2 linked regions of the Homo sapiens genome follow. The protein of the gene in region 1 interacts with the protein of each later gene in a biochemical or structural test. Each region holds a gene or a part of one and is shown on either strand. Other genes may lie near its edges.

Region 1 (7,025 bases):
TCCTGGACTCTCCACTGTGTTGTTGGTCTGTACGTCGGTCCTCATGCCCACACCACACCATCCTGATTGCAGTGGCTTTGTAGTAAGTTTTGAAATCAGGAGACTGAGTCTTCCTCCCGTGTTCCCCCTTTGCAAGCCTGTGGTGGCTCTTCTGAGCCCCTGCAGTTCCGTGTGAGTTTCAGAATCAGCTTATCAGTTCTTCAGGGAGGCCGGCTGAGTCCTGGGATTGTACAGAATGTGCAGATCAGCCCTGGGAGTCTCTGGTCCCGACAGCGCCGGGTCTTCTGATCCGAGACATGGGATGTTTCCTAATCACCTAGATCCCGCCTAGTTTCCTCCCATGCTGTTTTGCTGCCTGTGTGTTTGAAATGGCTCCTCTTGGTGGGGTGGGTGCAGGAGTGGTGCTGTTTGTATAGGACATAGGGCCGTCCTCCCATCCCGACACTCGGCTGCCCTGGAGACGGGCCTCAGCACAGGGCTCCCATTACCCCTGCACTTCCAGCACCTGCTGAAATGTGTGGCGCGCGGGCTCCGAGGCATGGAATGGTGTGCCTGACTCTGCGCTGCCCAGGCTGTGGTCACAGCAGCAGGCTGGAAGTTTGGCTGTCGCCCCCAGCCACCTTGGGGCACGGTCCTGTCTCACCTGGAGCAGAGGTCCTGGGCCCCCAGGGGCTCAGGCGTGGCCTCCTTCTGGAGGGGCCGGGAATGTCCCCTCCACTTGCTGAGTGTTGGCCCAGGAGGCTCCTCTGTGGGATGCCAGCTGCTCCCACCATGAGTGGCAGCTCCACCCCTGTATTCACAGCTGTGCTGAGGGCATCCAGGGCCTGGAAATCATGTCAGATGGACAGACAGGTGTGCGGGTGGATGGACTAAGGGAAGAAAGGAAGGATGGCAGGAACGAACGCGTGGAGGTCAAGAGCCTGGCCCAGAATCACGGTGGGGACGTGAGCGGGTGGGTGGTGCCCAGTCTGCCCCTCCCGTGCTGCCTCTAGGGGCTCTGCCTTCTCCAGGCGTTAGGCAGGGAAAGTCCCCTGAACTTACAGAAAGACGACTAGGTGCCTGGAATGTTGCCATCTGCACAGAGCCCTAGCGCCTGTCCTCCCACTTCCCTCGCCCTCCTGGGAGGTGGGTTCTCCACGCCACCAGTTATGGAGCCCAGGCTTGTTCTCAGCCCTGGTCAGCGGTGCCATCGCAGGTCGCTCCAGCCCCAGCCGCAGGTGCCCAGTGAATGCTCTCCGTGACCCAGGGCCTCCTGCTGCAGGTGGAAGCCGGGCCACGGGAACCTGCGCCGACCTTGGCCTCACACTGTGGCTCCGGGAGAGCAGGACCTGGTGGTGCATGCGTAGCGGCTGAGGAGGACAAGCCTGGGGGCTGGTCCCAGCCCGGACACGGTGGCTTTGCACACACCAAGCCTTCGCCCCCAGCGGGGCCAGCAGTGCAGGGCGCTGCACTGTTGGGGGCCAGAGGGTGACAGGATTGGTGTTTAAGAAGAACTTCTCAGTTTTATCTTTTCTCTGTTTTGATTTGGTTTCCTTCATCTCTACTGGCTTGGGCTTTTGGTCCTTAAATCCTCTAATATACAGAATTGTTTCCTGGACCTCAAGCCCCCCATCAGGGGGGAAACCTCATCCCAGGATGATGGGCCGGTCGTGGGGCACCCTGGCTGGGGGCTGGGGGCTGGGGCTGTGCCTCTGGCTCTCGTTCCTGCCCGTGGAACGTTGAACGTTGCCAGGACATCCACCCCGGGGAACTTGACGTCCTCAGGCACTGCTGGGTCCAACGCCAGCGCTGGGCGCACCACCGCTGACCCCCGACCCCTCCTGCAAGTCCCCCTATCTGCTAAGTAGGAGGATGCTGGGGCCAGGCGAGGCCTTGCTGGGCAGCCTCTAGGATGGTCACTACCTCCTCCCACCTGGAGGTCCCTTCAGGAGGTCCGCGGTGTTGAAGCCTGGGGAGGAAGAGGAGGCTGAGGCCTGGGAGAGGAAGAGGAGGGTGAGGCCTGCGGGGGGAGGAAGAGGAGGGTGAGGCCTGGGGGAGGAGGGTCTCACTGCTCTGGGTCAGAGGAGGGCTGAGTACACGCTGTGCGGCCTGGTTCTTGCCAGGGGTCAGCTGACTACAGCCCCGCCTTCTGTGCAGCCCCTCAACTAAGAACCGTTGTACATTTTTGAAGGGTTGAAGAAAATCAAAAGAAGAATATTTTGGGACACACGCGGGTTATCTGAAATTCAGATTCGTGTTTCCGTGCCCGCAGCTCCGTCAGCGGGGCCCATGCTGGCCTTGTGTGCCCTGCGGCTTTCTGGGTGCAGTTGCAGCGCTACGTGGTTAGGACGGGGGCAGGGTGACTGCACAGCCCCGTGACTGGCTGCTCTCCGCAGGAGGCGGCCCCACCCTCTGCCCACATCCTCCCTGGCTCCTCGAGGCTCCGTAGGATGGTGAAGAGGTTGAGATGCTGTCCAGCCCACAGAGGCCCCGGAAAGCCAGTGCCGCCCGTCAGAGGGGTCTCCTGAGTGCGTGTGGGTGGCTGGATTCTGCATACTGGGTTATCTTAACCCCGGCTGTGAAAACTGGATGAAGTAGCAATCCTTTCAACCCCAAGAGTCTGTGATTCAGCCAGAGTTACAAGATGTCTCTTCATCCTCTGAGGTTTACAAGGTTCTCAGAAAACCTGTGAAGAGCTGCGCGGATCCTCTCCTGCCCCGGCCCAGCGGCAGGGCTGCCGCCTCCCTCTCCCCTGGGCCTGAGTGGGTGGATTTCCCCTCCCCTCCTCCTTCCCAGGAGAAGCACAGAGGGAGCGGCCAAGCGAGCCGTGTCTGCAAACCCCGCTTCCCTCTGCGGCGGCCTCTGCCATCGTGCCATGGGGCCGGAGGTCCCTGGTCCAGGTCAGCATGTCCATCTCCACTGGCCTCTTCCATGAGGGGGGTGGCAGGGCCAGCAGTTAGCTTGTGTGACGTGACGTCAGGGGGATGTCTTAGAGTCCGGGGTGGCACCAGGAGGGGTGAGGTCTCTTCCCTTCTTCCCCATCCTCTCCTCTCTCCCTGTTGGAGGCACATTCTGGGCTCTGGGACCACGATTGCCCATGGCTGATGAGCTCCAGCCCAAGTGAGGTCCCCAGGGTACAGCCCAAGCCAGGCCTCGCCGTCCTTCGGGGACTTGGAGAGCAGTGGCCCACAGCAGCCTGAGCTCTTGGGAGGCTGGAGGCTTACTGCGCCCGGTCTCTTCACCCCGTGGGGTGTGTCCACACCGGCCTCTCCTGAGAGCGTGGGGTGATCTGAACACAGGATGTGTTTCCCTGTTCCCCTCTGGGAGATAGGAGAGTGCGTGGGCAGAAGCCCCAAGGGTGGCAGGAACTCATTGCCAAAGGGGAGGAGGCCATTGCTATGCGTGGTGCTGGCCTGGCTTGCTGGGTCATGTCTGTGCCTGACATGACCCATGTCATGACCATGGTCATGTCTGTGCCTGACATGACCCATGTCATGACCATGGTCATGTCTGTGCCTGAGGGACCGGGTGCCCATCCAGTCTCACTGCCCCACAGCTCACAGCCACAAGCTGCAGAATCTCAGCACTTGGCGGGAGCCCTGGCCCGTGTGTGTGCGTGTGTGTGCGCCGCTGGCTCCAGCCCTGGCCTGTGTGTGTGTGTATGTGTGTGTGTATGTGTGTGCGTGCACCGCTGGCCCCGGCCCTGGCCCATGTGTGCGCGCGCCTCTGGTCCCGGCCCTGGCCCGTGTGTGTGTGCCTCTGGCCCTGGCCCGTGTGTGTGTGTGTGTGTGTGAGCGCCTCTGGTCCTGGCCCTGGCCCGTATGTGTGTGTGCGCCTCTGGTCCCGGCCCTGGCCCGTGTGTGTGTGCGCGCCTCTGGCCCTGGCCCGTGTGTGTGTGCGCGCCTCTGGTCCCGGCTCTGGCCCGTGTGTGTGTGTGTGTGCCTCTGGCCCCAGCCCTGGCCCATGTGTGTGTGTGTGTGTGTGTGTGCGTGTGTGTGCGCCTCTGGTCCCGGCCCTGGCCCGTGTGTGTGCGCCTCTGGTCCCGGTCCTGGCCTGTATGTGTGTGTGTGTGTGTGTGTGTGTGCGCGCCTCTGGCCCCGGCCCTGGACTGTGTCCGTGTGTGTGTGTGTGTGTGTGTGTGTGTGTGCCTCTGGCCCCGGCCCTGGCCCGTGTGTGTGTGTGCGCCTCTGGTCCCAGTCCTGGTCTCTGTGTGCGTGCGTGTGTGTGTGTGTGTGTGTGTGCGTGCGCGCCTCTGGCCCCAGCCCTGGCCCATGTGTGTGCACCTTTTCATATGTTTATCAGCTTTTTGGGTGTCTTTTTGGGAAGTGTCTGCTCACATGTTTTGCAGATTTTTAGAGTGGGTTGTCTGACATGCCCTTGGTTATTTCTGACATGCCCTTGGTTATTTCTGACATGCCCTTGGTTATTTCTGACTTCTTCGTATGTTCTGGATCTGAACCCTTTCTCAGAAATGTGATTTTCAAACAGCACCTCCTGCTCTGTGGGTGCCTTTCCACTGTTTCAGTGGATGAAGTTCTTAATTTCTATAAGGTCAGTTGTACTCTTTTTTTTTTCTTTTACGGCCAGCACTTCCTGAACCCTGTTTGAGTAACCTGTGTCTACTCCCAGGAGACAGAATGTGGTGGAATTGATGTTTGTGTGTGATGTGAGGTCGGGGTCTCAGGTGTGCAGTGACCCTGCACCTCCCTGCCGTGGGCGGCTGTTGTTTGTGTGTGGCGTGAGGTCGGGGTCTCGGGTGCGCAGTAACCCTGCAGCTCCCTGCCGTGGGCGGCTGATGTTTGTGTGTGGCGTGAGGTCGGGGTCTCGGGTGCGCAGTGACCCTGCACCTCCCTGCCGTGGGCGGCTGATGTTTGTGTGTGGCGTGAGGTCGGGGTCTCGGGTGCGCAGTGACCCTGCACCTCCCTGCCGTGGGCGGCTGATGTTTGTGTGTGGCGTGAGGTCGGGGTCTCGGGTGCGCAGTGACCCTGCACCTCCCTGCTGTGGGCGGCTGATGTTTGTGTGTGGCGTGAGGTCGGGGTCTCGGGTGCGCAGTGACCCTGCACCTCCCTGCTGTGGGCGGCTGATGTTTGTGTGTGGCGTGAGGTCGGGGTCTCGGGTGCGCAGTGACCCTGCACCTCCCTGCTGTGGGCGGCTGATGTTTGTGTGTGGCGTGAGGTCGGGGTCTCGGGTGCGCAGTGACCCTGCACCTCCCTGCTGTGGGCGGCTGATGTTTGTGTGTGGCGTGAGGTCGGGGTCTCGGGTGCGCAGTGACCCTGCACCTCCCTGCTGTGGGCGGCTGATGTTTGTGTGTGGCGTGAGGTCGGGGTCTCGGGTGCGCAGTGACCCTGCACCTCCCTGCTGGGGGCGGCTGTCCCCTGCTGTGGGCGGCTGTTCCCTGCTGTGGGCGGCTGTCCCCTGCTGTGGGGGGCTGTCCCTGCTGCAGGGCTGCATGGTGCTTGTTGCTGGGGGTCGGTCACCCACCACAGGTCAGCAGGCTGGGCCTCCAGGCGCACTCCTCCCTCAAGGATGCCACACACATCCCGGCCCTGGGTTTCGTGGGAACATCAGGTTGCGAGGCGCATTCCTGAGCCACCCACGCTGATGCCAGGCTCCCTTGCCTTCCATCTCTGTGTGGTTGACCTTGTTTCTCTTGTGGCACGGGGCACCTTCCAGGCTGGTAGGGAAGAGATGGGAACATGGCCACACGGGCTCCCAGTCTCATCCCAGCCAGGAACCTCAGAGGAGAGGAAGCCTCCCTCCCGGGCACTGAGTGTGGAATTCTGGGAAGCACCGCACTTGGCTGAGCAAAGGCCGCATGTCCCCTCTCACCCTGTTCCTGTGGTTAGGCAGAAGGGACCCAGCAGGTGGCCAGGCCTTGTTCCTGCACCTGTCCACAGGGCACAGGGAAGGAGCCACTCCTTCCAGGAGAGATGGCTGCCAGGCAGGCTCAAGAAGACAAAAGAACTGAGCACTGTGCTGTGTGTGACCCGTGCTGTGTGTCTTCCTGGGCCATGGTGACCCATGCTGTGTGTGACCCGTGCTGCGTGTGTGCCTGGGCCATGGTGACCTGTGCTGTGTGTGTTCCTGCAGGGTGACTATGACCAGAGCAGGACCAAAGTGCTGCACATGAGCCTGAACCCCACCAGTGTGGCCAGGCAGCGCCTGCGCGAGGACCACAGCCAGCTGCAGGCGGAGTGCGAGCGACTGCGCGGGCTCCTGCGCGCCATGGAGAGAGGAGGCACCGTCCCAGCCGACCTTGAGGCTGCCGCCGCGAGTCTGCCATCGTCCAAGGAGGTGGCAGGTAGGCACCCCCCACCCCCGGTCCCTGCCATCCTCGACCTTCCGTGGGTAGGTCCATCCGTGCGCCTTTGGGGCAGCCTCAGGCGCCCCTGCCTGTCATCCCCAGAGGGTTTGTCCTCCCCTGTGGGCAGCCGGGTCTGGTGGTTGCTGGGGCAGAGCACCCTGGCCCCGTGTCCCCATGGCCCCGTGGGGTTGTGCAAACAGGTGGAGCCATCCGAGTCTGCAGGCAGCTGTGGAGAAGCAAGGGGCTGAAATTTCAGGCCCTTAAACTAATTCGTATCATTTGTCAGTTTATATGTACCCCATTAATCACAAGTAAATCCAGTCCTCCACGAAAACAAGTCCATCTCTCACCAGCTTAAGTGTGCTTCATGGCGTCCAGAGAGCCCTTTGAGGCCAAGGCCTGTGGCGTCCCAGGGAAGAATGAGGCCTCCATGAGGGCCAGCAGGGCCTGCCCACACCCTCCAGGTCTACATGAGGCCCACGGCCTTTGGAACGCCAGCCTATCCCCTGATGTGGGGAGGTGGTGCTGGGGTCTGCCCACGCCAAGCCTCGGAGGGTGCTGCCGGGGCTGTGTCGACTCTGCAGGGTGCCCCTGAAGGAGCAGGGCTGGGAGTCCAGAGTCACTGTGCAGTCTGCACCCCCAGCGAGGCTGTGGGGCTCAGGAGACCCCTGCCCCCTGTGTTGCTCTCTGCTGTTGGAGGGAGCTGGGCACTGCCCCACGCTCCTGGTTCTGGGGGGACCTG
Region 2 (7,025 bases), on another chromosome or scaffold:
GAATATACATTCTTCTCAGCACATCACACTTATTCCAAAATTGACCACATAGTTGGAAGTAAAGCACTCCTCAGCAAATGTAAAAGAACAGAAATGATAACAAACTGTCTCTCAGACCACAGTGCAATCAAACTAGAACTCAGGATTAAGAAACTCACTCAAAACCGCTCAACTGCATGGAAACTGAACAACCTGCTCCTGAATGACTACTGGGTACATAACAAAATGAAGGCAGAAATAAAGATGTTCTTTGAAACCAATGAGAACAAAGACACAACATACCAGAATCTCTGGGACACATTTAAAGCAGTGTGTAGAGGGAAACTTATAGCACTAAACGCCCACAAGAGAAAGCAGGAAAGATCTAAAATTGACACCCTAACATCACAATTAAAAGAACTAGAAAAGCAAGATCAAACACATTCAAAAGCTAGCAGACGGCAAGCAATAACTAAGATCAGAGCAGAACTGAAGGAGACAGAGACACAAAAAACCCTTCAAAAAATCAATGAATCCAGGAGCTGGTTTTTTGAAAAGACCAACAAAATTGATAGACCGCTAGCAAGACTAATAAAGAAGAAAAGAGAGAAGAATCAAATAGACCCAATAAAAAATGATAAAGGGGATATCATCACCGATCCCACAGAAATACAAACTACCATCAGAGAATACTATAAACACCTCTATGCAAATAAACTAGAAAATCTAGAAGAAATGGATAAATTGCTGGACACATACACCCTCCCAAGACTAAATCAGGAAGAAGTGAATCTCTGAATAGACCAAAACAGGCTCTGAAATTGAGGCAATAATTAACAGCCTACCAACCAAAAGAAGCCCAGGACCAGATGGATTCACAGCCGAATTCTACCAGAGGTACTAGGAGGAGCTGGTACCATTCCTTCTGAAACTATTCTAATCAATACAAAACAAGGGAATCCTCCCTAACTCATTTTATGAGGCCAGCATCATCCTGAAACCAAAGCCTGGCAGAGACACAACAACAAAAGAGAATTTCAGACCAATACCCCTGATGAACATCGATACAAAAATCCTCAATAAAATACTGGCAAACAGAATCCAGCAGCACATCAAAAAGCTTATCCACCATGATCAAGTGGGCTTCATCTCTGGGATGCAAGGCTGGTTTAACATACAAAAATCAATAAACGTAATCCAGCCTATAAACAGAACCAAAGACAAAAACCACATGATTATCTCAATAGATGCAGAAAAGGCCTTTAACAAAATTCAACAACACTTCATGCTAAAAACTCTCAATAAGTTAGGTATTGATGGGACGTATCTCAAAATAATAACAGCTATCTATGACAAACCCACAGGCAATATCATACTGAATGGGCAAAAACTCGAAGCATTCCCTTTAAAAACTGGCACAAGACAAGGATGCCCTCTCTCACCACTCCTATTCAACATAGTGTTGGAAGTTCTGGCCAGAGCAATCAGGCAGGAGGAGGAAATAAAGGGTATTCAATTAGGAAAAGAGGAAGTCAAATTGTCCCTGTTTGCAGATGACATGATTGTGTATCTAGAAAACCCCATCGTCTCAGCCCAAAATCTCCTTAGGCTGATAAGCAACTTCAGCAAAGTCTCAGGATACAAAATCAATGTGCAAAAATCACAAGCATTCTTATACACCAATAACAGACAAACAGAGAGACAAATCATGAGTGAATTCCCATTCACAATTGCTTCAAAGAGAATAAAATACCTAGGAATCCAACTTATAAGGGATGTGAAGGACCTCTTCAAGGAGAACTACAAACCACTGCTCAAGGAAATAAAAGAGGATACAAACAAATGGAAGAACATTCCATGCTCATGGGTAGGAAGAATCAATATCGTGAAAATGGCCATACTGCCCAAGGTAATTTATAGATTCATTGCCATCCCCATCAGCTACCAATGACTTTTCTTCACAGAACTGGAAAAAACTACTTTAAGGTTCATATGGAACCAAAAAAGAGCCCGCATTGCCAAGTCAATCCTAAGCCAAAAGAGCAAAGCTGGAGGCATCATGCTACCTGACTTCAAACTATACTACAAGGCTACAGTAACCAAAACAGCATGGTACTAGTACCAAAACAGAGATATAGACCAATGGAAAGGAACAGAGCCCTCAGAAATAATGCCACATATCTACAACTATCTGATCTTTGACAAACCTGATAAAAACAAGAAATGGAGAAAGGATTGCCTATTTAATAAATGGTGCTGGGAAAACTGGCTAGCCATATGTAGAAAGCTGAAACCAGATCCCTTCCTTACACCTTATACAAAAATTAATTCAAGATGGATTAAAGACTTAAATGTGAGACCTAAAACCATAAAAACCCTAGAAGAAAACCTAGGCAATACCATTCAGGACATAGGCATGGGCAAGGACTTCATGTCTAAAACACCAAAAGCAATGACAACAAAAGCCAAAATTGACAAAATGGGATCTAAGTAAACTAAAGAGCTTCTGTACAGCAAAAGAAACTACCATCAGAGTGAACAGGCAACCTATAGAAAGGGAGAAAATTTTTGCAATCTACTCATCTGACAAAGGGCTAATATCCAGAATATATAAAGAACTCAAACAAATTTAGAAAAAAAAAAAACAAACAACCACATCGACAAGTGGGCGAAGGATATGAACAGACACTTCTCAAAAGAAGACATTTATGCAGCCAAAAGACACACGAAAAAATGCTCATCATCACTGGCCATCAGAGAAATGCAAATCAAAACCACAATGAGATACCATCTCACACCAGTTAGAATGGCAATCGTTAAAAAGTCAGGGAACAACAGGTGCTGGAGAGGATGTGGAGAAATAGGAACACTTTTACACTGTTGGTGGGACTGTAAACTACTTCAGCCATTGTGGAAGACAGTGTGGTGATTCCTCAGGGATCTAGAACTAGAAATACCATTTGACCCAGCCATCCCATTACTGGGTATATACCCAAAGGATTATAAAATCATGCTGCTATAAAGACACATGCACACGTATATTTATTGTAGCACTATTCACAATAGCAAAGACTTGGAACCAACCCAAATGTCCAACAATGGTAGACTGGATTAAGAAAATGTGGCACATATACACCATGAAATTCTATGCAGCCATAAAAAATGATGAGTTCATGTCCTTTGTAGGGACATGGATGAAGCTGGAAACCATCATTCTCAGCAAACTATCGCAAGGACAAAAAACCAAACACCGCATGTTCTCACTCATAGGTTGGAACTGAACAATGAGAACACGTGGACACAGGAAGGGGAACATCACACACCGGGGCCTGTTGTGGGGTGGGGGGAGGGGGGGATAGCATTAGGAGATATACCTAATGTAAATGACGAGTTAATGGGTGCAGTATACCAACATGGCACATGTATACATATGTAACAAACGTGCATGTTGTGCACATGTACCCTAAAACTTAAAGTATAATAAAAAAATAAATAAAAATAAAAAAACGTAAAACTGGAAAAAAAAAGAGAACCTTGCATAAAGCTCAGCAATGACTCTCACAATGGATCCACTATGACTACTGGGTGGAGGATGGATTGGGAAGGGGCAAGAGCAGCTGCAGGCAGCCCCATCAGGCAGCTGGGGCAGGAATCTCGGTGAGAGATAATACCAGCTTGGGTTAGGGAGGTGGCAGAGGAGACTGCTTGTAAGAGAAGCAGTGAAGGGGTGTCTTGTTTATTGTTTTTTTAATCTCAGAGCCCAACACCATGCTCAGAAGACAATAACAACTTAGTAAATATTGTGAGTGATTTGAAAGAAAGTCAAAGCTTTACGTTATTTCTCTCTGTGGAGATTTTTGAGACTAGGCAGGTAAATATGTATTACCAGTTAAGGAGGCTAATTTTTCTTGCACAGTGTCCACTACAGATGACACAGATACATAATAAAAGGGCAAAGTGGTAATGAAGGCAGCATGAGTGAAGGTTAAAGATGAGAACAAGCATTCATATTCAAAGATACTCAGAGGCCCAATCTATGAGGGAGGAGTTCATGTAGAGCAGAAGGAAATAAAGTTAGATTGGTTAAGAGTGGCCAAATCTTGCCCCAGGAAGTGATATACAAAAGCAATGGTTAGTATATTCGAAATCCTTATGATGACTTCAAGAAACAAAGACAAGGGTCATGGAGACAAGGTTCCAGGAGACTGACATAGTAATTCAAGAGAGATGAGAAAGTAAATGAGTGTAGCACCCATGGAAATGTTTAAAGGTAGGATCAGTAAGAAATGGGACAAGTGGACAAAGAGAAAGGCAGAAAAAGATGAGTCAAAATTGACTTAGGTTTCCAGCTTAGGCAGCTAGGATAATGCTGGTTTTACTGGAAATAAGGAATATTCACTATGGTAGGAAGAAAATAGTTTCGTTTTAGACATATTAAAGTTTGAGATAATGATGGGACACAATTATAACCATCTTTAGGAAGACATGAATTAGAATTCAGAGACTATAGGTAAAATATTTGGCAGTCATCAACATGGAAATGATGACAGAACATTTGAGAGCAAGAACTTGAGTAAGAAACGTCACAGAATACCTCCAAGTTTTTTTTTTTTTAATTATTTTTTTAGGAGGGTAGGGAAAAAGAAGCCAGGGTAGAAAACAGAGGAGTACAGCTAAGAGAAACTGGATATTATCATCCCACCAAGGCCAGGAGATAATCAGAAAAGAGCCACCTCTAAAGAGACAGAGATGACTCTTTAGAGACTTCTTTCCAAGAAGATTCTTAGAGTAAGTGGGTAGGCTGGAGGGTTGGAACAGATGGAACACAAATGACAGAGCATCACGTAACATGAGGAAAATCATCAAGTAGATCACTGAATATGCCAAGAGTATTAAAGCTAAATTATTAAAAGTTAAAATTATATGAAATATCACAGTCTTGGATGAGAAAACTAAAGAGGTTAGGGTTTGGTTTTTTATTGTTAAATTAAAACAAGATTAAAGTCTACTAAAATAAGTTATACAATTTTATAGCAAAATAGCTAAGGTGAAATTAGGATTGAATATTAAGTAATTAATAATCTAATTTTATAAAATCTGAAAATGAATAAACATATTATAGATTGCTTTTTTCCCTGAAGTTTTCTAATCAAATAATCTTAAATCATATCCCACATCAAGCTAAAGAATTTAGGCCCTAAAAATGCAGAATAAAGCAATATGGTAAAAGATAGAAAAGGAGCAAGAAAGAAACAGCAATAATTTAGTGTGGAAAGAAGGAAGTGAAGGTTTACTAATGTGGAATATAGGAATGTTTGCATAATGCATATATTCGCTTATTCAGCAAATCTATATTAGACATAAAATAGGTATAATGTGTTGGGGCTACCAGGATGAATGCAGTATCACTCCTCAATGGATTTACAGTCTAAAGTACTACGTTTACAATACAAAATATATTTTATTGTTGTACTTAAGTAAAACCTAAAGTAATGTGATTACTTTTTAACCATCCAACCTAGATTTTTGTTGATCACATAAGTCTAAATTACATTGGCTGAGATTTTACAAAAAGACCCTCAAATTCTAAGATGATCTAAAGTGTTAAATGTGTATAGAAAAAAATTCTACTGCATTAGTGGTTAGAAAAAACATCAATTCCTATAACCCTATAGCCCTGACATTTAAATTTTAGGAGATGGCAACCATGACATAACAGGAAGAAAGATCCTCTGAATTTTTCCTACGACATTTTAGCTAGGAATTTGATGATACTGACAAGACTAAGCAGACAATTTGTAGATTTCCTCCCACATTTAGTTTAGTTAACAGTTCTTATTAAACCAAACATCCAGCAACTAAATTAAATTTTGTTTTGGCCCATACAGTACATTATTATGGTTCATTAATACTCACCAAATGGGATACCTTAACAGATCCTTCACAATTAGAAGGTTCACCCTTCTCTCTGCTTTCCAAAATCTAGATAGAAAAGGCAAGCTGTAGAAAAATTAGTGCATTCTTACTTGGAAAGATCTAACAGATAGATAGAATTACCTACCATCCTAAAGATGGTATGAGAACGACTGCTTCTTTGATTCATTTTTGTTTCTCCATAATGCCTGCTCTCTGTAAAAATGAGTTATATTTCAGCTGCATATATAATAAAATCCATAGAAACACAATAATTTTTATTTTAACTTAAAAAAGTATGATTTGAGGTCCAAACGTGCTTGATTGAAAAGATAGTTTTTACAAGTGTTCTAAAGAAATACAGCATAAAGTCTTACTTTCTCCCTTTGTAATCCATTTCAAAGCCATTTCTGATGTATATACAACTTCTTCTGTGAGATCAGCAACATACACATTCCTCTGAAACAAGTTTAATTATGGAAAGATTAGAGAAATAGAAGTCACAAGTTTGCTTTTCAAAAGAAGGTGCAAACTATTATAGAATTCATTTGTGAAAGTTAAAAGTGGCAAATGGAACCATAATTCTGTAGGAATGTAACAAATAATTCTATGAATACCCACAATTTATTTCACATACCAAAGCACAACAAATTCTAACCTGATACTTCCAACTTGCTATTTTTACACTTAAACCAAAATATTAGAGCTGTCAGTATTTTAAAACTATTCATATTGTTTAAAAGATGAATATAAATACTTCAAAAAAACCCTCACATACTATAGAAATAGGAGACACTTTAAAAACTATAGAAATTAAAGGTAAACATTCAAGAACAATAATCTCAATAAGTCAGTCAATTTTAAAGCTCCCTTAAGTCTGCTACTCACATTGACATCTTCTCGAATAATTAAAGGTTTCATTTTTTGAGTGCCACAGAGTAAATCTGTAATGGTTTCATTGTATATTTCCATGTAAGATACACGTAAGAGAAATTCCCTATCAGGAAACTAGAAGAAAAAAAATTATATAAAAACACCAGGAAGCATCCAATTGTGAAAACCTAATGCTAAATGCTCATGTGCTTAAAGAGGTAAAATGTATGTAAAACAAACTAAGAAACCCCTTGGTTCTA

Evidence for each region. The genes of interacting proteins can lie anywhere in the genome.
Region 2: the proteins of MAD1L1 (region 1) and CENPE form a complex in vitro, tested with the Homo sapiens proteins (one study listed by IntAct).

What each region holds. Positions count from the first base shown.
Region 1 is NC_000007.14:1,935,942-1,942,966, reverse strand, and holds part of MAD1L1 (mitotic spindle assembly checkpoint protein MAD1), read left to right. Parts: intron 1-2,395; exon of another isoform or gene 2,396-2,879; intron 2,880-6,069; coding exon 6,070-6,280; intron 6,281-7,025. UniProt on the Homo sapiens protein: Component of the spindle-assembly checkpoint that prevents the onset of anaphase until all chromosomes are properly aligned at the metaphase plate.
Region 2 is NC_000004.12:103,188,334-103,195,358, forward strand, and holds part of CENPE (centromere-associated protein E isoform 1 precursor), read right to left. Parts: intron 6,901-7,025; coding exon 6,781-6,900; intron 6,352-6,780; coding exon 6,270-6,351; intron 6,109-6,269; coding exon 6,041-6,108; intron 5,962-6,040; coding exon 5,896-5,961; intron 1-5,895. UniProt on the Homo sapiens protein: Microtubule plus-end-directed kinetochore motor which plays an important role in chromosome congression, microtubule-kinetochore conjugation and spindle assembly checkpoint activation.